Linked DNA regions of Homo sapiens: regions 2, 3, 4, 5, 6 and 7 are each reported to be linked to region 1. Evidence: microRNA targets listed by miRTarBase, many of them from high-throughput screens and not tested one by one. Region 1 holds a microRNA gene; each other region holds the end of a gene's coding sequence.
The links. The annotated mature microRNA hsa-miR-342-5p reads AGGGGUGCUAUCUGUGAUUGA and lies in region 1 at 1,507-1,527, opposite strand. An mRNA with a match to its seed (bases 2 to 7 or 8) in the 3' UTR can be bound and repressed. Matches are read on the target gene's strand: a 7mer-m8 pairs with bases 2 to 8, a 7mer-A1 pairs with bases 2 to 7 and ends in A, and an 8mer does both.

Region 1 (3,110 bases):
GGGCAACAAGAGCTAGACTCTATCACAAAAAAAAAAAAAAAAAAAAAAAAATGAGGACACTAAGGCTTAGAATGGTGAAATGGCTTGCTCAAGGTTTCACAGCTGCTCCATGTGACAGGGTGGAGCGGGTGCCTGGAGCTAGGGCATGGTACCCTGTCACCTGCCCCCACAATCTGTGCCACTTCTGTCAACCACTGTGCTGACCATGGCAGGCACACCTCAGCTGGCTGCTTCCTGAGCCCTACCAGGAGGCGTCAGGAAGGTGCTGGTGAGGCAAGGCTGGGGAATGAACCACCACCTATCTCAAACCCTGACTGGGCACATGGCGCCTGGGCTGTATCTACAGAAGACTAAAACTCCAAAGGAATCTCGCCATTAGCGTTAGGGAGATAATCCTGGGACTGGTGGAAGGAGGAGACCTCTCTTCTCTAGGATGTAAACTGCAATAAGCCAGCAGCTCTTTTGAGGAGGACAATGGCAGCAGCAGGATGCAGGTGGGATGCTCTGAAATTAGGGGCACCCGTGAGGCATGCACAGTACTACCAATGTGCCGAGGGAGACCCCCAGGGTCAGACAGAGCCTCTTCTCAGATCTTGATTTGAACTTCCAAACCACCAAGATCTGCTGGTGCCGCCGTCCTCCTCCTCATCAGATCCCCCCATTCACCCCCAGCCCTGCAGGGCCCAGGTTCAAGCCCCGCTTCCCTCAGAAAGTGTTCTCTGACCATCAGGATCCAAGAAGCCTGGCTTCCCTCTGTGTCCCAACGTGATGGCTGCTGGCACCACACAGGAGTTGATATTGTTAGTTACCTTTTTTTTTTTTTCCTGAGACAGCGTCTTGCTCTGTTGCCCAGGCTGAAGTGCAGTGGTGTAACCATGGCTCACTGCAGCCTCAGACTCCAGGGCTCAAGCAATTCTGCTACCCCAGCCTCCTGAGTAGCTGGGACCACAGGCACACGCCATCACACTTAGCTAATTTTTAATGCTTTTGTAGAGACAAGGGTCTTGCTATGTTGACCAGGCAGGTCTCGAACTCTCACACTGAAGTGATCCCCTGACCTCCTAAAGTGCTGGGATTACAGGCATGAGCCACTGTGCACGGCTGATATTGTTAGTTACCTTTGCAAATAATTTTTTTAAAAAGAGTAACTTCAAACTGTTATAGTAATTTAGAGGTGACAAAGAATGTTTACAAACATCATCTCATGGTACCCTCACAACAACCCTGTGAGGTGAGTCTGATTCAGCCATTTCACAGATGGCGAAACTGAGTCTTAGGTCAGTGACATGCCCAAGGGCACACTCCTGGCACAGCTGGTACTGGAACCAGATCCGAGTTCACGTCCGAAGTTCCTTCCACAGTATGCACACCTCGGGGCCACAGCAGCTGAAGGCCCTTCCATAGGCTGTGGCTGGAGAAGGCGTGTTCCTCTGTTTGGGGTGGTGATAAGTAGGCCAAGGTGACGGGTGCGATTTCTGTGTGAGACAATTCCATTAACCATGTCCCTCAATCACAGATAGCACCCCTCACCTTGAGCCCAGTTTCACAGGTTGGCCAGCAAGCGGTCTTGGTTCAGGAACTCCATCTTAGTCTGCAGAGAAGGATGCAATGGCAGGAAGTGCCAGGCTATGAGAGGCACACAATATGACATGGGCGCAAGCTGGGAGCTTGTTCAGTCACCAGACACCTCTGATGTGTCAGTCTCTCTTCAGGGCTCCCGAGACACAGAAACAGACACCTGCCCTCGAGGAGCTCACAGTCTAGACAAACAAACCCAGGGTCCAAACAAATGGGACACCAACAGTGTGCGAGGACTGGGAAGGGGTGCCTGAGGTCTTCTGGGGCACTGGGAAGGCTTCACAACAGCAGGGCAAAGGATGAGCAGAAGGTGACCAGGAGTATGGAGAGAACATGCATGAGGGCAGGGGCGGGGCCCCTTTAGACGCAGCCCAGGGAGGACAGACTGAAGAAGGACAAGAGAAGGTGGATGGGTTACAACCCCATTACAACACTTCAGGGGAGAGAGTGTCAGGGGAGAGACGGTGAGAATATGCAGTGCAGGTGGTGAAAATGGGAGCCAGTGAGTCAGAGGGACCAGGGGCTCAGGCCAATGCACAGCCTTCACTGCTGGACATGGTCCCACAGGACCTCGATGCTGAGCTGGGGCCTGGGCTGAGTCAGGAGACAGGGCTCCAGGCACGGCAGCCTCTGGGTCCTGGTGTGTTCCTGCAGCCAGGGATGGATATACTGAGAGCTTATAAGGCAGACGATGTGTGGGTTTTTGGGGTCCAGAGACAAAGAGGCCACTTTCTGAATTTCCAACCTGACTAGATTCATGCAGTGGGAATAGCAGGACAGGCCAAGTGGCAGCTGACTGTTAGGACAGAGGCAAAAATAAAGCCCCGTGGGAGTGCAGGAGGGAGTGCAAAGTCACAGGGAGCGGGGCGGCTGGGAAAGGCTCCATCTGTGGAGCCACATTCTGACAGGACGAGTGAGATTTTAGAAGTGTGGGGAAAAGTGAGAGGGGAAGAAGGGCCAGGGGCACAGGAGAGCCTGAGTAAGAGTGTGACTGACGGTGCGACTTGGGTAGCTGTTGGCATGGAGGCGTACAAAGGCCCTGCCTGATACAACATCTGGAGCCCTGGGGTGAGAACAGGGGTGGGTCAGCAAAGAGACATATCCGGCTTTCAGAAAGTGGCCGCCAGAGGGCAGCTGGGAGCAGGCAGGAGGCCAGGGGCTTGCCGTCCTGTTCCCCTCAGGCAGGGCCATGCTGGGCCTGCTTTCTCTCAGGTGGCACAAGGTGTCAAATGGCCTCGGCAGCCAGGGAGATGAAGACAGTCCAGTACTTCCTTCTCTTTAGGGGAGAAAGAGGTAATTTCCAATGGAAAGAGGTTTACAAGAAGCAAAATTCAGCCCCACCTCCAAGAGCTATGAGGTTTAACAACCTTCCACTCCCCTCCAAAGAGCACATGGAGCTGGGCCTGACTCTTCCCGGGAAGGTCTGCCTGTAAGTCCCTTTCCGGGGCTCTTTCTCAACACTGTGCTGAAGGTGCAGCCCCTGGGCCACTGGGCATCAATGAAGGACATAAGAGGTTGAAAAACTGGGAAAA
Region 2 (3,093 bases), not on the chromosome of region 1:
GTAGTCAGCCAGACTTGGGGTCAGAACGGGGACCCTGTGCAGGCCACAGCCCGTGCATGTGGGACATGGGCTCAGTGAATCAGATGAGGCTATGGGACAAGCTTTTCAGCCAGGTGAAGCTCGTCTACAGCTCAGGGCCTCGGGTCCCTGCGGCTGCCCCTGCCCAGCCTCACACAGGACACCTGAGCAGCTGCTGAGAGGGAGGCTGGGGTCCCCGGGAGTGTGTGCATGGGTCTTGTTGCTGGGCCAAAGGCACGGGACGAGGCTGCTCGCCCCTCTCTTAGCCACCAGTGGCAAGGCCTCAGCCTAGTGCTGTCTCCCCTGAGACCCCTGGTCGCCGCCGTATCCTGGGCCAGCCCATCTGGGCCCTCAACAGGTGGCAGCCTCCCAGATCTCTGACAACTTTACAAGCTGCAGGGGAGACCAGCGATAACCCTGAAACCTTCCCATGTAACCCCCAGGGCGCTGGCCAGTCCAAGAGCAGCTGCCACATCAGGCTGGTGCCAGCAGTCCCTGCCTGCCACACTGCCCCCCACCAGGCCACTGAATGAGGCAGCTGGGAGAGGCAGGAAGTGGGGCTTCAGGCTGAATTCTTGATTTGACCCTTCTTGGCCCTTTTGCTTGGGAGACCTGGAACTGAAGGGCATGGAACCCCCCTTGGACCCTGTGGGCAGGAAAACTGCTCCCCTTGTCCCTGCCTGGGGGTAGGACAGATAAGGCTGCTCGTCCTGCGGCGGCCCCCCAGCCCACCTGCTTCCTATCCGTTTCCTGCAGGATGGTGCCCCCTGCATCCCCTCACCCATTGCTCACGGAAGGAAAAGCAGACGTGGCCAGCCTGCATCCTCTGCCCTCCCTGAGCCTCCTGGCCTGGCTGGCCACAGCTGGCATGGACGCCATCAGCAGGCTCCGTGCAGGCGGACGGGGCAGCCCCCACAGCCAGGGCACCCTGGCCCTCACTCACCAGCACCCTTTTGTTCTTTTCCTAGCAAAATATGCAAAGTGTGACCAGTGTGGAAACCCAAAGGTGAGTGGGTTCCGGCTGCAAGCCACCAAGGCTTCAGCTTTGGGGGTGGGCAGGGTGGTCTCTGCACTGCTTGGGGTGGCAGGTCTGGTGCCCGCCCAGCTGGGTTTGCAACGTGGCTCAAGGTGGCATGGATGCCTCAGGACGGCCCCTTGCTTCCAGCCAAGCCCCTGCCCAGGCCTGGAGGGGAAGAGAGTCTGGGTGGGTGGGGGTGAGGGAGAGGCATCTGGCTTGGGAGCAGTTCCCAGGGCTGCATCCAGGCCGTGGGCATCTGGCAGAGGCTTCCCCAGTGGGGCTGCTCCCCTGCTGGCCAGCCTGGCCCCGGGAGTGGTGCTGGCCACAGGCTCCCGAGATTTCCTGTGCCCAGGGCAACAGATGTGTGTTCAGCCTGTGCCGCGGCTGCTGCAAGAAGCGAGCCTCCAAAGAGACTGCAGACTGCCCAGGTGAGGGCGCCTACCACCCGCCCCGCAGCAGGCAAACAGACCCCCTCCGCCTCCTGACCCCCGACTCCTCTCACTCGCTCTGCCAGGTCACGGATTGCTTTTTAAAACCAAATTGGAGAAGTCTCTGGCCTGGAAAGAGGCCCAGCCTGAGCTGCAGGAGCCTCAGCCAGCAGCACCTGGAACACCAGGTGGCTTCTCCGAAGTCATGGGCAGTGCCCTGGCCTGAAGGCCCACAACCCCCACCCCCAGGACTGCTGCTGGAGCCTGGACACGTCCTACTTAAGAAAATGCCTTTTACTCAGGGAATCTCCTGCTACTTAATGTGGAAAGACACGCCCATGTCCCCCTTCGGCCCACTCTGGGGGCCTGGAAATGCTGCAGTGGGGAGCAGGCCCCAGGCTGGACCTGCCCTGTCCTCAGCACGCGTGTGCAAAAGTGAACAATAAATCATTTCAAAGATGCGAGAGCCCACAGCCTGTGACCACTGCCCTCTCAGACCCAGGGAGGCATGAGCCGGGGCAGGTGCGGTTGGGGCCAGTGGGGGCTTCTGAACAACAGGATACATCTAAATGAAGGCAGCATCTGGGTAGACAAAAGTGGGGGCTTAGGTCCCCTCCCCACCTCCCCTAGGCGCCTCCATAGGCAAGTGGCCAAAGCCTCCGGGAGCTTCGTGATGCCTCACAGCCTTGGAAGCACCGCCTGCGAGGCCACAGTGGCTGCTGCTGGGGGCTGTTGAATCTGAGGGCCAGGCTTCTCATTTCTCTCACCAGGCCCTGCCTCCAAGCCTAGTCCCAGGGAGACAGCCCTCAGGAACCCAAGGCCACCCAGGGGTGACCAGAGCCTGCACGGCAGGAAAGAACAGCCAAGAGCAACGCTGAGTCTGCTCTTTAATGGACACCGCCCACTTGTCTGCACCTGACTGAGGCGGGAACAGGAGGGGTCTGGGAAATGGTGCCACTGGGCCTGGGTGCCGCACAGTCTGCTCCCTGGGGACAGAAACCCACAGGGTCGAGCCCTGCAGGCCTCTCCTTCCAGGAAGGGCCACAACTAGCAGCCGCCTGCCTCCTCAGCCCCAGGGAGGGCACACAGGCTGGGTGGCACCCAGTGGCCAGGCCCCTTAGCTGGGCCGCAGGCAGCACTGAGCCGCCTGGAGGTCCGAGGTCCGTGGAGGTGGGGAGGGGGTGCAGATGTCCTGGAGGCCAAGGTTCACCCCTCACATGTTGGTGCTCATCCGGGACTGGCTGTTGGCTGGAGTCAGCTCCCCCTGGCTCCCTTCTCTGGGCGGGGACTGCAGGGGAGACAAGGAGCAGCTCACAGCCACCAGGCCCCACACGCCGTGCGCCTGCCCCCCCTCAAGCCAGCCCACCTTGACATGGATCTGGTTGCGGAGCACAGCTGCCCGCAGCATCATGGCCTTGGCGCGGCGCTGGAACTCCTTGCCCATCAACAGAGACTTCTCAAAGGTGGTGCTGCGCTGATCCACGTCCCGGGCGTATAGGATCTGTGCAGGCACAAGCTCAGCGGGGCCCAGGCTCACCCCCAGCTGCCCCCACCGCCCCGCAGCCCACAGCCACCTTGCTGTGTGAGTCCACACGGGCACTGATCAGCCCCTCCAGGATTAGCTGCGTC
Region 3 (3,000 bases), not on the chromosome of region 1:
CTGCCCCCTTTTCTGCGAGCGTTGGTTTCATCCAAGTAATATCTTGGGGGCTTCTCCCGCCCCATCTGTCCAGTGGAAGTTGATGGCATGGATCAGGTCTGAGTTTGGCCTGGGGCCATGACTTGGCTTCTCTTGGCTTCTTGGAGCCTCCATTCGAGTGGGTCAGAGCAGGCGGGGATTAGAGCCGAAACTGAGAGGGGCCGGACTCACAGTGATGTGCACCTCCTCCCGTCCAGGTGGGGCCTGCCTGGGGAAAGCTTGTGGCCGGAAGAGAAAATGAGCTTCCTAGGACCCCTGACTCACGACCTCATCAACGTTGGTGCTACTGCTTGGTGGAGAATGTAAACCCTTTGTAACCCCATCCCATGCCCCTCCGACTCCCCACCCCAGGAGGGAACGGGCAGGCCGGGCGGCCTTGCAGATCCACAGGGCAAGGAAACAAGAGGGGAGCGGCCAAGTGCCCCGACCAGGAGGCCCCCTACTTCAGAGGCAAGGGCCATGTGGTCCTGGCCCCCCACCCCATCCCTTCCCACCTAGGAGCTCCCCCTCCACACAGCCTCCATCTCCAGGGGAACTTGGTGCTACACGCTGGTGCTCTTATCTTCCTGGGGGGAGGGAGGAGGGAAGGGTGGCCCCTCGGGGAACCCCCTACCTGGGGCTCCTCTAAAGATGGTGCAGACACTTCCTGGGCAGTCCCAGCTCCCCCTGCCCACCAGGACCCACCGTTGGCTGCCATCCAGTTGGTACCCAAGCACCTGAAGCCTCAAAGCTGGATTCGCTCTAGCATCCCTCCTCTCCTGGGTCCACTTGGCCGTCTCCTCCCCACCGATCGCTGTTCCCCACATCTGGGGCGCTTTTGGGTTGGAAAACCACCCCACACTGGGAATAGCCACCTTGCCCTTGTAGAATCCATCCGCCCATCCGTCCATTCATCCATCGGTCCGTCCATCCATGTCCCCAGTTGACCGCCCGGCACCACTAGCTGGCTGGGTGCACCCACCATCAACCTGGTTGACCTGTCATGGCCGCCTGTGCCCTGCCTCCACCCCCATCCTACACTCCCCCAGGGCGTGCGGGGCTGTGCAGACTGGGGTGCCAGGCATCTCCTCCCCACCCGGGGTGTCCCCACATGCAGTACTGTATACCCCCCATCCCTCCCTCGGTCCACTGAACTTCAGAGCAGTTCCCATTCCTGCCCCGCCCATCTTTTTGTGTCTCGCTGTGATAGATCAATAAATATTTTATTTTTTGTCCTGGATATTTGGGGATTATTTTTGATTGTTGATATTCTCTTTTGGTTTTATTGTTGTGGTTCATTGAAAAAAAAAGATAATTTTTTTTTCTGATCCGGGGAGCTGTATCCCCAGTAGAAAAAACATTTTAATCACTCTAATATAACTCTGGATGAAACACACCTTTTTTTTTAATAAGAAAAGAGAATTAACTGCTTCAGAAATGACTAATAAATGAAAAACCTTTAAAGGAAACTGTGTCTTAGCTTCCTTCGTATGATTTAATCTGCCTTCAACTCGCTGGCCTGGATGGGGATAAGGGCTCTGCTTCAGGGAACCTCCACCACCCACAGTGTATTTGAGAGGTTGCCCAACCAAAAGCCCCTGCTGCTGGCTTCTGGGGCATCGATCTTTCTCCAAGTTTGGCTTGTACTTTAACAATGAGGCCAGGAGTTTGAGACCCACCTGGACAACATAGCTGTCCAGTGGAGAATCACTTTGTACCATATAGCTACAAAAAAAAAAAAAATTACCCAAGATTGGTGGTGGTGCATGCCTGTGGTCCCAGCTACTCAGGAGGCTGAGGTGGGAGGATCGCTTGAGCCCAGGATTTCGAGGCTGCAGTGAGCTATGATTGCGCCACTGCACTCCAGCCTGGGTGAGACAGCAAGATCCTGTCTCGAGAGAGAGAGAGAGAGAAACAGAAAGAGACAGAGAGGAAAGATGGCTGACCTAAGAAAATGCAGAAGACAGTCAAAGGTAACCATTTTCCTCCGAAACAGTCCCCTCTGAGGAAGACCCACTCTCATGCGTGGCCATGTAAGGCCATTTGGCTTGAGAAGTTTAAGAAGTGATACCCAGCAGCAGGTTCAGCTCCACCCTTACTCAGATGCACCCATTCCCATTCTGGCCCTTCCTCCTCCCCTTGAGGCCAGAAATCCGTGGGGCCCGGGAATGTGTTCACCTGCAGCCCACATCCCTACCTCTAGACCACGCTCTGGATACCAGATACTGGAATTCCCTTCCCCAACCACCAAGCCCACTTCCAGGGCTCACTCAGCCTCAGGCCTGTGCCACCCTCCTGAGAGCGGGCCCCGTGCTGAGTGTGCACACCTCTAAGCCAGAAATGTGGCAACAGAGCTGTTCGTGGGGAGTGTGGGTGGGGCTCACCATGCAGACTGGAGCATATGTGGGTTTGCATACGAGGATCCTTGCGATCCCAGAAGGAGCTGGGAGGGAAAGAGAAAGCTGGTGGAGGGTATGCTCAGAGAGAGCTTCCCAGAGGACAGTAAAGGGCAAAAAACATTTTACCAGGCAAAGAATAGAACAGAGAGGAGGGTCAGGCCTTTCAGGCAGAGGACAGGACAACTAGATGTCTGGTAGGAGAGGGCAGTGCTGAGGACTTATGGAGGATGATCAGGAGGGGGTGAGCGGCGTGGTTCAAGGAGATGCACAAGAGGGTTGCTGTAATAATCCAGGGAGGGGTGACACAGCCTGCCCTAGAGTGGTGACAAAGTAGATCCATCCATCCATCCATCCACCCATCCACCCACCCATCTGTCCACCTACCCACCCATCAACCCACCCATCCACCCACCCACCCAACCATTCTTCCATCCATCCATGTCTCCTTCCACCCATCCACCCACCCACCCATCTATCCACCCACCCATCCATCCATCCATCTATCCACCCATCCATCCACCCACCAGTCCATCCATCCATTCATTACTTCACTCGACAAAAATATCCATTGCTGGTTTTTCCT
Region 4 (3,090 bases), not on the chromosome of region 1:
GTCTCTGGGTGGGAGAGAGTGTAAGGCTGAGGGAAGCACATGCCGACTTTTGAGAATTGCTAAAGTGAATGCTCCTTTTTTAACTTCGATTTTTCTGCAGGGGTCGGCACCAGGAATTATTATAGAAAGATCGGCTACAGATTACAAGGCCCGTACATGGTGAAGATGCTGAAATAATGGCCACACCAGTCCACTCTTCTGCAGTATCCTCCCTGGCAGAACACGGAGAATCAGGATTTCTTAAATACTCAACAGAGAGGCTGAGCAGAGCAAATGGGGGGCTTCACCCTCATCCCGCAGCTGCAGAGACTGGAAACTGCCTTCAAGGCCACGGCTGGTCATCTGCTGACCACACCCCAGATCCGCCCTCTCCTGCGTGCACCCCAAAAAATCACTTGCGTTTTTGAGGCTTAAATCATCTATCCAGTTTCTACATTTTGCATGAGGCCTGCAGGTGGCCTATTTTGACTCAGACGGTGAAAAAAGCAAATTAACTCATTTGGACACCATAACTCATGCAATAAAACTGATTGTCATTCGAGGAGCAAACTTAAGAGTAGTTTATTTATATACCCTGGGGACAGAAAGTCAGGTTGAAACAGGAAAACCACCAGACTCTAATCTCAGCCCTTTAACGACATACGCATTGGAGCGCAAGTTAGGAAAATGAGCTTTTGTTTTCATGGAAATCATTCTGATTACAGTGCTGATGTTTAGAAATAAATAGCAGTGTGACTGGGAAAGAGGAATTGCAGTTGTGGGGGTGTGAGCCTGGCAGCAGCCAGCCAGCAGCCTCTCCCAGGCGGGAGTCTACCATCCGAGACGGCGATGACAAAGAGCTTCATTCCACATTCTTTGTTATCTCTACTTCCCACCCTCTTGGCAACTACAGAGCAGTGTGGGCAGCCCCAAGTGTGGTCCCCAGAGAGCGTTTGGCTTTCCTGTCTGTCTATCCTGAGCGGGTGGAGTCTCAGGTTGTGTGCCCCTAAATCAAGATTTGCTTCCACAGAAGCCATTACTTGCAATTTTTTTTTTTTTTCTGAGAAAGTCTCGCTGTGTCACCCAGGCTGGAGTGCAGTGGCGCAATCTCACTGCATCCTCCGCCTCCCGGGTTCAAGCGATTCTCCCGCCTCAGCCTCCTGAGTAGCTGGGATTACAGGCACCCGCCGCTGCTAATTTTTGTATTTTTAGTAGAGATGGGGGTTTCACCATATTGGTCAGGCTGGTCTCGAACTCCTGACCTCAGGTGATCAACCCACCTTGGCCTCCCTAAATGCCGGGATTACAGGCATGAGCCACCGCTCCCAGCCTTTGATTTTTTAAGGTGGATTTTGGTTGTTATAAATGGAGAAAGGTAAGAGTTCAAGTTCAACCCGTGTGTGAAAGCAAAACAATGGAAAACAGGATTGGCTTCTTCAAAGGCTCCTCTTGTAGAACTGCCTCTTTGAAATTTCGAGGTAATCTACTTTGGAGACTCTGCCTGGAGAGGGTCAGTTCCTAAGTTAAAAGCATCGCTTAACCTTGGCTCCTGTGGCATTTTACAAAGGTTTAAAGGAATTGATTCCTCTGAAAGGGCCTGAAAATAAAAAGTCTTTAACATACAAAGAAGAGTCATGTGGTTTTCTTTCTCTCCCTGTAAATGCAGTGACATTTGCCACAAATGTGCAGGTTTCAGTTTCCAACCTATGGCACTGTTCATTTCCTCCCGGGTGCTGTTTGCCATTTCATTAAACTGCTATGAGGCAAATGGCAGTGGCTTTGTTATGGGCTGGCTGTGGAACCACCACAGCTTTCCATGAGTGTCGTTTAGGGACTTAGCTACTTCTCAATTATGCTTTTTTACCCTATAAAAATAAAACAATAAAGCCTACTCCCGCTGGTTGTCAGAGCTGTGTTGCTGGAGACAGAACCAGCTGCGCAGCCCTGGAGCACAAAGTCTCTGGGCCTCGACCTTCTCATCTGTCCTAGGTGCCCAAATGGATCCACACACATAAAAGGGCTTTTGTGAAATGGTAAAAAGGCCTGCACGTGGAAAGTTCACTTCAAAAGATGACAATTTAGGGAATTTGAAACAAAATGACAGGAACTTGCACCTTTCTGATGGCTGTCAGCTATTATTGAATCCTGGTTTTATCTCAGGATTCACGAGAATCCCTCTTTCTAGCTCATCCCTGGCCTTCCTTGCCGTATCTTGTGGCCTGTGCAAAACGGCAGCAGTTGGGGAGCTTCCCCCGGGTGGCAGAGCTCCCGCCTCCCTCTGCCACCAGAAGCTTCCGCTTCTCTTGTGACTGCCAGGGCTCGTTCCGGCACGGATGGTGCTTGGCACCTCCACTGTCCGGCTGGTCTGTCTGCTCCGAGGCCTGTGGGGCCACCTCATAAGAAAGCTCAGTTGGGCACAATTCTGCTGGCCTCAGTGTGAAACCATCACAGCTGCAGGCTGATCCCATCTGAATGGAAGGACTCCTTAGCAACCACCTCCAATCTAGAAAGCTCTGCTTTTAGCTCAACTTCTGGCTACATCACCTGAAGTTTTTTTTTTTTTTTCTTTTTTTAATTCAAGTCATATCAAAAACAGACTGAAATAAATTTGAAGAGAAAATGAGATTTTTAAAATACATTATCACCGAATGAAAGGGCCTGGTAAAACTCATTGTTCCTCCCATTTGGGAACAAGCAAACCGCTTATCCATTTTCCATCTCTGCAGGCCCTAAAGTACTGCAAAGACAACTCAAAAACCAACGCCTGTTCCCCTAAAACGTCTTTCAGATTGCAAATTTTCATTGCCAATGGGGTTTTGGCTTTTTTGTTTTCAAGATTATCACATTGAAAACAGAAAATCCTGCTCCTAAAGAACTCACAGACCCCTGAGTTTACCAAAAAAAAAAAAAGCACAAGATCTGGAATCTGAAAACCTGGTTTCCTCATTAACCATGAAGCTTTGAGCAAGGCCCCTCCCCGTTTTGAGCTACCATTTCCCTATTTGTAAACACGTGTCTCTCGGGGCAAGCATAGGAATCAGATGTGGCATTTGAGAGACATTGCATAAACCAGGACATATACCAATAGTTGTTGCTGCCCCCACTGAAGTG
Region 5 (3,099 bases), not on the chromosome of region 1:
GGAGATGGGGAGCCCTCCCAGATGGGGGCTGGGAGGACCGCAGGTCCTGGATGGTTCCTACGCGCCCAAGTGCAGCCCCCAGGGAGCTGCTTTTCCCCGGGAGCCAATCCTGCTTCCAGGTGGCCTGGAGCCCTGAGTACACATGCAGGTTCCCAGCCGCCCTGGGAGCCATGGGCTCCTCAGAGTGAGGAGTCGCTTCGAGGAAGCCCAGTGCACAGGGTGGACCACGGTCCTTGCTGCACCCGAGGTGAACGTCAGGGCCCCCCCCCACTTCCCTTCCTAAACATGTGACACCAGAAAGAACCCGGGGACTGCAGGGCATCGTTATAAAATGTCACGTTTATTGCTACAGTGCTGTTATATACAGGACAGGTCTCTGAATCCACCTGAAAGAGGGTCGTTTTAAAGTCCCAATCATCCAGCCAGCTGTGTTGACACGTATACAATTATTTTCTTTAAAAAAATTTTTTTGAAAACCATCTTGAGGCACTCAGATCACACCCCCCACCCCCCATAATTGTGGTTCCCAGGAACTGCTGTTTCTTCCTCCTCGCGCTGGGTGAATCTCGTTTGAATTCTATGCAGAACGCACAGTTCCAGAGGCTATGGGGCCACTGCCCACCCAGACCTAGGGGCAGGGCCAGGAGCAAAACAAGAGGGAGAGGCAAGTTCCCTTAAGAGATCAAACTCCCAGGGCGTAGGGGAAGCCACCGAGAAGGGAGAGGCAGCCGGACAGCCCCTCCCCTCCGCCTGGCCTGGACTGGGGGCAGATACCAGGCATTGAGCTGGCCTTGAGGTTTCCCTTGCATCTACCATGGGGCCCAGGCTCCCAAGCCAGTCTGGGGAGGGGAGTCAGGCAGTCCAGGATCTCCTGGGGGTAACGGTGGGAGTCTCAGGAGTGGCACGGGGGGAGACGCCCGACCTGCAGCGGGGATGAACACAGCCAGCCCAGGGGTCCACAAGGCCTCAATGCAGGGAGGGGCATGAAGGGCACATGAAGGCCCCCAGCTAGCCAGGCCCACACCTGGGTGCCACAGTGACCACTGCCCTAGTTCGTGTGGAACTGGATGGGATCCCAGGGTAGGAGACTTGCAGTTTTAAACCCAAGACAGTCCCCAGCCAGCTGGGAAGAGCTGGTTACCCTCATGGCAAAAGACCAGAAAAGGAGACCTGGAGAGAGGCCTGGGTGCTGGGACATGGGACACAGATGGGCCCGAGGGGACACCCTGCTGGTTCTGCAGCAGGGTCGGACGCACAGCCCAAGGCCTTCGTGGGGCTCAGACCAGCACAGTCCCCCGGCTCCAGCCACTCTTGCCCTTGGACCACACAGAGGGAGGGCAGCAGGTGTGGCCCCAGGCCCAGGGATGCTCCCCAGCATTGGGGGAGGCTGGCCAGGCCCCTGGCATCCTGTCTACGTCACGATGGCCCTCTGGTGTAATGGGGACATGGTGGGGTGGGGTGGGGGGTGTCCTGTGCTGGCTCCTGAGCAGCATCCTCTCAGCCAGAGTTCAGAGCATGAGCCTGGGTCCCTGGGGCAAAGGAGTGAAGGACAGGGTGTCCAGGAGGTCCCCAGCACCGGGCTCCAGGGTGTGGTCCCCATGCCAGGGGTCACTGGTCCCAACAAAATGCCCCATTTCAGAGAGCTGTGCAGGTTCCAAGGGAGAGCAGCTTAGGGGGGCCTGGGGAGGGCGTTGTGTAGGGTAGCCCTGGGGGCCACAGCTGCTTGGCAGAGTCACCTGGGAGGGTCAGAGCCACCTTGCTGACGTCCCTTCCCCCAAGCCCAGGTCAGTCCCCTTCCTGAGGGGAGAGGATGCGGCAGGGAAGCCCCAAGGTGCCTTCATCAGGGAACGCCCACGCATCACTTTCCACATGACAAAACCAAGAGAACCCCCAACATCAAAAAAACAAAAGACCCGCCGCCTGTCCCCGTTCTGTCTGTGTGCAGTGGCTTCCGGGGGGGGGGGGGGACGGGGGGGCTCAGGTTTACACGGGGTCTTTTTAATACAACGTTTAATCATCTGGTTGATCAAGAAATGCAATGCTCAGTCTAGGAACAGCAGCAGAAATAGCGAGAGACACGGGACTTTTATACAAAAAAATTTGTTGCTTACAAAACATATGCAAAAAAAGCTTAAAAAAACCAGAGACCAAAGGCAGCATCCTTGCTAATTTTCATCTACATTAAGAAAAAAAAAATCTTGTAACTAATGTTTTTATTTTCCTTAAAAAAAATATTTCGCTTAGGCACAATTTGCTGGTGGCTTTAGAAGAATAAGCCAGGTTTCCACAGCATCCCCCTTGAGTGATATGTTTCCATTTCTCCGCTTTTTATAGTTAAGGCATTTTTTTCTTCTCTGACAAAGTGTATGTTTTGTTGCTTGCTTTCAGGTTTTGTTTACTGGAAAAAAAAAAAATGCTCCTGTCAGCCCAGGCAACAGGGCCAAGATGCAGTTTCAGGATCCATGGGACAGGTCACAGAGTGACACGGTGGCTGAGATTCGGGGACAGGGGGAGCGAGGCCAGTGAGTGGTAGGCCAGGGCCCCAGGGAGCTCCTGGACCCAGTGTCACCTTGGCCGCCCCCATCACTCCGAACCTTGTCAGGTTGGTGTTGGCTCGATGCTGACAACAGGTGTGTGAGGTGTGGATGTGGATGAAGCCCGGGGTCTCGAGTGGCCGTTCTGGGGCCAGAGCACAGGGCTGAAAGCGGGTGGCTCGTCCCACGGAGGCATACCTTTCACATGTGCCCGGCGGGGTTGTGGGCTTCGCTCAGGCCTGGGTGGGGAGCTGAAAGCACCATCTGGGGGTCTCCAACCACACCTGACACCTTTTCCTCTTCTCGCCGTTTCAAACAGGCTGCTTTGGGATTCAGGTTCCGCTCTGGAGGGAGGGGGGAGAGCTCTGTGGGAGACGGTCCCAGGGAGGAGAAAGATGTGAGGTGGGAGTGGGGGGTAGGATGTCGGGGGGGGGGGTGGGGGCAGAGCCCCATCACGTGTGGCCTCCTGTATTTCCGGCTCTCACCTCCTTCCTTGAGAAGGCTGGGGGGATGGGGTGGAGGCTTGTAAAGAAGAGAGTGGGTATCAGGGGGTGTCTGGGGAACA
Region 6 (3,110 bases), not on the chromosome of region 1:
AGCATCCTCTGGGTAGGTGGTGTGTTAATATTGCCATATGGAAATTCATGGAAGATATAGTTCCTGGCCCTAGAAACTTACAAACTGAGACCAGGAGTTTGAGAGTGATTTGCACATGTCAGTCAAGTCAAAAGAAAGAGAAACTCTTTTTTCTTTTTTCGTTTTTGTTTTTTGAGATGGGGTCTCACTCTGTCACCTAGGCTAGGGTGCAGTGGTGTAAGCTCGGCTCACTGCAACCTCCGCCTCCTGGGCTCAAGTGATCCTCCCACCTGAGCCCCCCGAGTAGCTGGGACCGCAGGCACATGTCACCATGCCTGGCTAAAAAGGGAAACTTTTAATTTAATTCAATTCAATTTAATTTTTTTTTTTGAGACAGAGTCTCGCCTAGGCTGGAGTGCAGTGGTGTGGTTTTGGCTCACTGCAACCTCAGTCTCCTGGGTTCGAGTGATTCTCTTGCCTCAGCCTCCCGAGTAGCTAGGATTACAGGCACCCACCACCATGCCTGGGTAATTTTTTTTTTTTTTTTTGGTATTTTTAGTAGAGACAGAGTTTCACCATGTTGGCCAGGCTGGTCTCAAACTCTTGACCTCAAGTGATCCGCCCGCCTCGGCCTCCCAAAGGCGTGAGCCACTGCACCAACCGGAAACTTTTCAAAATATGGGTTTTATTTGAAAACCAAGCCAGACATTAAATCAAAATAATTTTTTTTTGCTTTTGTATGAACTCTCCAGTTTGTATACATAGATGATCTCAAGTTATAATTTAAATTTAGGAAAGTGCTGAGGATGAATAGATATTTGCTTTTTCCCAGGGTCTGGAGGGGTAGGAGCAGGGAAGCAGGGAAATGACATTACCGAGTGCCTCCTGTATGCCAACGATTTTTTGTTTGTTTTGTTTCAGAGAAGGAGTTATGCTCTGTTGCCAAGGCTGGAGTGCAGTCATTATTCACAGGTGCAGTCATGGCTCACTGCAGCCCTGAACTCCTGGGCTCAAGCAGTCCTCTCGCTTAAGCCTCCCAGGTAGCAGGTGCACACCACATGTCTGCTTTCCAAGGAGTTTTAGGTCAACCCTCACAACAAGCCTGTGAAGCAGCGATTGTTATTCCCACTTCTCTGGTAGCACACCAAGGTGCAAGGATTCCCTGTGGCTAGGTGGTTAGTAAGGTAGAATGGGGTGAGGTTTGAACCCAGTCCTGACAATCATCAGAGCTACGCAAGGCTGCCAAGAAGTAGAAAAAGATAGTGGCATTTTGGGTCCCCATTATCAATTCGAAAAATGTACAGTCTTAAGCTTGGAAGTCGGTCGTCTGGTTCAACCCTGCCTTTTGCAGAAGCAGGAGCTGGAACCCTAAAAAAATAAAGCTACTTGCCTGCAATTAAACAGGGTGAGAGGGGGCAGATGAAGTGTAGGCATGTGGGGCTGGATCTGGCCCTGCCCTGACACATAGAAAGCCTGAAATAGAAGTGAGAAAGGAAAATTCCAAGAAAGAAAAGGCAGAGAAGTGGCTGTTCTTACTCCCACACCTAAGGTGTGAATTCTTTTATTGAGTCATAATAATTTCCCGAGAATTCCGAGTCCTGCTACTTTAGGTTCTTGCCCAGGAATCCACCTCTTTTCCCCCAAGCCCAACAATCCTTTGAGGTACTCATGATTGAGCACGTGGTGGGGGGGGTGGGGAAGAGGCTGCATGGGGGTGGGGCTCCTGTGGCTTCACGTCATCCACTGTCACCTCTGGTCCCCAAGTCTCTGGATCCTTTGGTCTCACCTCTAGACAACCGTATCTTTCAAACCTTCTTCCCTGGCAACTCCTCTCTGTCCCGACAAAATCTCTCCCAAGGCATTGTCCTTGTAGTTAGATTTACACAGAGCTTTTGCTTTTATAAAGTGCGTTCATGCCCAGCTTCTCACTTGCATGTCATAGCACCCCTGGTGAGGTGGACAGGGAAGGGATGGCTCCCTCCATTTTGTAGGAAAGTGGGGGCTGCCCTCTTGATTCTTCAGTGTCGTCAGGGAATATTTACGAGCCCCAGCCTCACATGGGCCCAGCAGGGCTTCTTTAGCACAGGCTCTAGTTTTTTCTCTTGTTCCTTGGGTTTCCTAGAATCCCAAAGGACTCTCTGTGGCAGACATATTACAAATAGGCTGATGATGCATGTGTGATGGTGCAGCTGCAGTCGCCAGCTCTGTGTTGCTGGGTGGCATCCCTCCAGGCTCCGTGGCTGATCTCCCACTCCATTGTGGGCCCCTCCTGTCCCGTGCTTGCCATCCTTCCTGCTTATCATTCATTATCTAACCAGATTTCACGGGGATACACGTCTCCAACCTTCCATTTTGTCCAAATGGATCTATCTTGGTTTATTTTCTCTTGCCTAAATATTAGGCATGCCTAATGGGTTTCAAAAATTAATATAATTTATTTTCCATCTTGTCAGTGCAAAACAAAGGTGTTCTTGAGGCATGGCAGTGAAGACCAGAATCCCTCCTCCTCTTCTACTTCTGTTTCTTGAATCAGCAACAAGTAAACAACAGTTCTGTAAACATGTGTGGGTCTGTGTCCATGTGTGCGTGGATGCACCGTTTTCTTCCATTCTTAACTGGTTTCGGACACGTTAGCTACCAGTGGCCTTCTTGTCTTGTTCAAAACGGTGATTCCCGTAACATCTGGACTTTCATCAGGGCCCGTTTCAGCTGCTCATAGGTTACGAACATCACCACGTTCCAGGATCCCAAACGCAAAAAGGAGGGTGTAAATCTGATAAGAAAAACAACCAACACATCAGGTGGAGTGCTAGGGGACCACAACAGATGCGTGTGCTCTCCCGGGACACAGTGGTAGTGCCAGAGGATCCAGACTTCTGTTCATCACAAGCATTTTCTGAATCCTTTCAGTCTCTCTCTCTCTTTTTTTTTTCTGCTAAGGGGATTTAGGCAGAAGTCGGAGTAAGGAAAAGAAAAAAAAACTCACGTTTTGAGACGGGTTACTGTGTTAGGCAGCGAATTCTCACAGTTCTATAAGGCAGCCATGTTGCTGCCAGGCTCTTTTTCACAAACTGAGGCCCAGGGAGGTTAAGAGCTCAACCAAAGACCCGCGGCTAGTAAGTGTCAGAGGT
Region 7 (3,000 bases), not on the chromosome of region 1:
CGATCTCGGCTCACTGCAAGCTCTGCCTCCCGGGTTCACGCCATTCTCCTGCCTCAGCCTCCCGAGTAGCTGGGACAACAGGTGCCCGCCACCACGCCGGGCTGATTTTTTGTATTTTTAGTAGACACCGTATTTCACTGTGTTAGCCAGGATGGTCTTGATCTCCTGACCTCGTGATCCGCTGGCCTCGGCCTCCCAAAGTGCTGGGATTACAGGCGTGAGCCCCCGCTCCCGGCTGGGCCTCTATATTTTTTTGGCAGGTAACCCTACAGCATACTGTCAGACCAAGTAGGGTTCCCGTAACATGTAAATTAGCAGCCTCTGAACCATTGTAGAGTAAGGTGACTGGGTCTGTCTCCAAGAATTTGAATCTATTTCTGACTGAGGGGTCTTGCAAAAAAAATTTTTTTTGAGATGAGTTCTTGCTCTGTCGCCTAGGCTGGGGAGCATGGTGTGATCATGGCTCACTGCAACCTCGAACTCCTGGCCTCAAGCAATCCTTCCACCTCAGCCTCCTGAGTTGTTGAGACTACAGGCGCACGCCACTGCACCCAGCTAATTTTTTTTTGTAGAGACGAGGTCTTGCTTTGTTGCCCAGGCTGTTCTCAAATTCCTGGCCTCAAGAGATCTGCCTGCCTCCGGCTCCCAAAGTGCTGAGATTACAGGGGTTAGCCAGCATGCCTGGGAATTCTGAAATTTTTCAAACACTACCTCCAGAACTCACTGATGTGCTATTGCCCCTGTATATAAAATGTGAAGTGCAGCACACAAACATTTTCTAATATAAGGTGTTCTTTTTTCATGTCAAGATGTGTAAAAAGTGGTCTCGGACTTGTTCCCAGTTGTTACCCCAAAATTATAGAAGACTAAACCAAAATAGAATACCTTGTGTTTAAATAGGGGATAGTTCTCAAAAATTCAGTTAATTCCTGATATTCTGGAATGGCTCTATATAAATATCAATGATAGTAAAGACTTAAACTCATCACATATTTTGCACTCTCTTAGTACTCAAAATCCTAGACACTGAATTTTTTCTAGCAGGGTCATAGCTTTGTACCTTTACTACCACTTGCTATTAGTGTTTAGTTGAAGCTAGAGACCTGACATAGATAATGAATTTCTCTTTTTAGCCTCATAGACAGTTTCTTTTCTACATTAATGAACTTCAAGTCACAATGTCCTAGTCTCCTCTCAAAGTTTTTCCCATTTACAGTGAACCAGTTCTGCATCTGAACCATAACAACTAATTTCCACTCTTCTGGACATTTTAACTCATTTAACCTGTTAAAAGGAGAAGCATCCTGAGAAAGTTACATATTCACCACCCAGATATAAGGAAAGAAGACTCAATAGTGGGGAGAAAATTAAACCTTATTTATTTTTAAAGTCAAACCACTAGGAAAATATATCACAGCCTGGAAACAGCAAACGGACAGGCTATATTATAATTTCAAGTAATAAGTTGGTGAAAATTCAACGAAGTTGCTATCAAAACAATAAGGTGCCATGCTGGGGCAGGAACACTGCCAGCTGCACAAGCCCCAGGCAAAAATGGTATTTGGTAATGGGGGCTGTCTCTCCTTTGCTCTAAGGGAGTCAGCTCATCCTAGCCCAAGTTGCTTACTTTTTCTCCCTTGAATTTCCTGTTGCCAGGGGTTTGTCTCAATTGGGCTCTGTTAATTCAGGGGGCTAAGTAGGCAATGCTAGGTGTAGGCTTTCATTCCATATGTTCTAATAAAACCAGGTTTTCCCAAATCCAGTACTTCATTTACTCTGTTGTAATCAAGTAGCCAACTGCTCCTCTTTTACTGTTCATTCCTAGATACTAGTATATATCACAATCAAAACCCCCTTCTCTTCAAGGGGAAAGTGTTACTGCAAGATTGTCCTGTCATTTTGTTACACACAGCCTCAGGGGCCATCAGCCAGTAATTCTGCTTCCCATAATTAGTGTGTCATCACCTCTCATGTTTCTGCACAGTCTCCAGGCTGAAAGATGCAGCATGTAATAATTTTAAGAAATGTACATCCACATCTTGATGACCAGAAATGGGGATCCACAAGGAACATTTCAAAGTTCTTATCCAAACTAGTCTACCTCCCAGTTCCACATCTTAAAATCAACTTGTATGCCCTTGTATAAATTACCCCAAATCAAGAAAACAAAGACCCAGAAAACTTTCTTTCCCTTCTAAGTTAGTGACCTCATTGATTTTGTTTCACAGCTTATGGAAGATGGTGGGGTGACACTTTTGGTAAACAGGATGTTGGCAACAAAGAGAAAATATCTCTCCTCAGACTCCACCAACTCTAACCTGCCAGCCTGTTAGTACCTGTGTAGTAAGAAGAGTCTGGTACCTTGGAGGGCTCTGGCTTGTTACAGGGGAAAGCCTTACTGCCAGGACAAGCACTGGCCACAGGAAATAATAAGCTCTAAAACTCTCCTGTAATATCTCTGACTCGATTTAGCACCACTTTTTTCCATTTCATTTTTTAGGGACTGAAACATAAAATAACCAGTGTCCAGAGGCAAGTGACATATGCCTTACGCTTGTGGCCATCCTTCATTTCTTCATTCGTAAACTTTGCTTAAAAGACTAAAATTCCCAATTCCTTATAAAAAATATATTCTTGCCCTCAGCCCTGATGGCCACTGGCAAATACTTTTATTTTCCAATTGATAAGAGAGCCTCCTTCATCTTCTTGGTCATAGTTGGGATGAGGTGCATGTGGTCATCCACACACTTGGTCACACAACTGTCCAGCTGCTGCTTCACCTGAAGCTCCTTACTCCCAGCATCTATTGAATCTTTGGCTTTGTCGTTGCAATGCATGGTGCACCGGGCCAGGCGGTCCTGTGGCAAGAAGGAAGAACGTAGAAAAAGCTGAGAGTAAGGCCTCCATTTACTGCGTGCTCATTATGTGTTAGGCCCTGTGCTACAGGTTTAATATGTATTATCTTGGTCAATTAAAGGGACATGGTAGTGTGATTGGCCA

Region 2: the mRNA of GPS1 is a reported target of hsa-miR-342-5p. Seed matches in the 3' UTR shown: 7mer-m8 at 2,643-2,649.
Region 3: the mRNA of ELN is a reported target of hsa-miR-342-5p. Seed matches in the 3' UTR shown: 7mer-A1 at 383-389, 7mer-A1 at 516-522 and 7mer-A1 at 871-877.
Region 4: miRTarBase lists ELP3 as a target of hsa-miR-342-5p. Seed matches in the 3' UTR shown: 7mer-A1 at 353-359 and 8mer at 379-386.
Region 5: the mRNA of TCF3 is a reported target of hsa-miR-342-5p. Seed matches in the 3' UTR shown: 7mer-A1 at 1,455-1,461 and 7mer-A1 at 1,450-1,456.
Region 6: the mRNA of UCP3 is a reported target of hsa-miR-342-5p. The part of its 3' UTR that is shown has no 7-base or 8-base seed match.
Region 7: miRTarBase lists FAM136A as a target of hsa-miR-342-5p. Seed matches in the 3' UTR shown: 7mer-A1 at 2,243-2,249.

Annotation. Positions count from the first base shown.
Region 1 is chr14:100,108,090-100,111,199 of GRCh38, reverse strand. MIR342 (microRNA 342) reads right to left here and starts at 1,545; the gene lies at 1,447-1,545. All of the region lies in intron 3 of EVL (Enah/Vasp-like), which reads right to left. It overlaps MIR151B (microRNA 151b), which reads left to right and starts at 1,686; the gene lies at 1,686-1,781.
Region 2 is chr17:82,056,712-82,059,804 of GRCh38, reverse strand. GPS1 (G protein pathway suppressor 1) reads right to left here. Exons shown (of 13, transcript NM_001321092.3): 11 at 3,039-3,093; 12 at 2,831-2,965; 13 at 2,335-2,752. The coding sequence ends at 2,678. It overlaps DUS1L (dihydrouridine synthase 1 like), which reads left to right. Exons shown (of 14, transcript NM_022156.5): 12 at 987-1,024; 13 at 1,389-1,464; 14 at 1,551-2,299. The coding sequence ends at 1,690. Among named protein-coding and RNA genes, the nearest start is that of GPS1, 6.4 kb to the right of the region's middle.
Region 3 is chr7:74,068,421-74,071,420 of GRCh38, forward strand. ELN (elastin) reads left to right here. Exons shown (of 33, transcript NM_000501.4): 33 at 237-1,487. The coding sequence ends at 280. Among named protein-coding and RNA genes, the nearest start is that of ELN-AS1, 7.6 kb to the left of the region's middle.
Region 4 is chr8:28,189,549-28,192,638 of GRCh38, forward strand. It overlaps ELP3 (elongator acetyltransferase complex subunit 3), which reads left to right. Exons shown (of 15, transcript NM_018091.6): 15 at 101-1,605. The coding sequence ends at 177. Among named protein-coding and RNA genes, the nearest start is that of ELP3, 98 kb to the left of the region's middle. RefSeq lists an enhancer at 2,056-2,808.
Region 5 is chr19:1,608,972-1,612,070 of GRCh38, forward strand. TCF3 (transcription factor 3) reads right to left here. Exons shown (of 19, transcript NM_003200.5): 19 at 321-2,878. The coding sequence ends at 2,736. Among named protein-coding and RNA genes, the nearest start is that of UQCR11, 5.1 kb to the left of the region's middle.
Region 6 is chr11:73,998,775-74,001,884 of GRCh38, forward strand. UCP3 (uncoupling protein 3) reads right to left here. Exons shown (of 7, transcript NM_003356.4): 7 at 1,503-2,752. The coding sequence ends at 2,638. Among named protein-coding and RNA genes, the nearest start is that of UCP3, 8.8 kb to the right of the region's middle.
Region 7 is chr2:70,294,620-70,297,619 of GRCh38, forward strand. FAM136A (family with sequence similarity 136 member A) reads right to left here. Exons shown (of 3, transcript NM_001329752.2): 3 at 1,357-2,858. The coding sequence ends at 2,670. It overlaps LOC124906023 (a long non-coding RNA gene), which reads left to right. Exons shown (of 2, transcript XR_007086880.1): 2 at 439-1,395. Among named protein-coding and RNA genes, the nearest start is that of SNRPG, 2.4 kb to the left of the region's middle.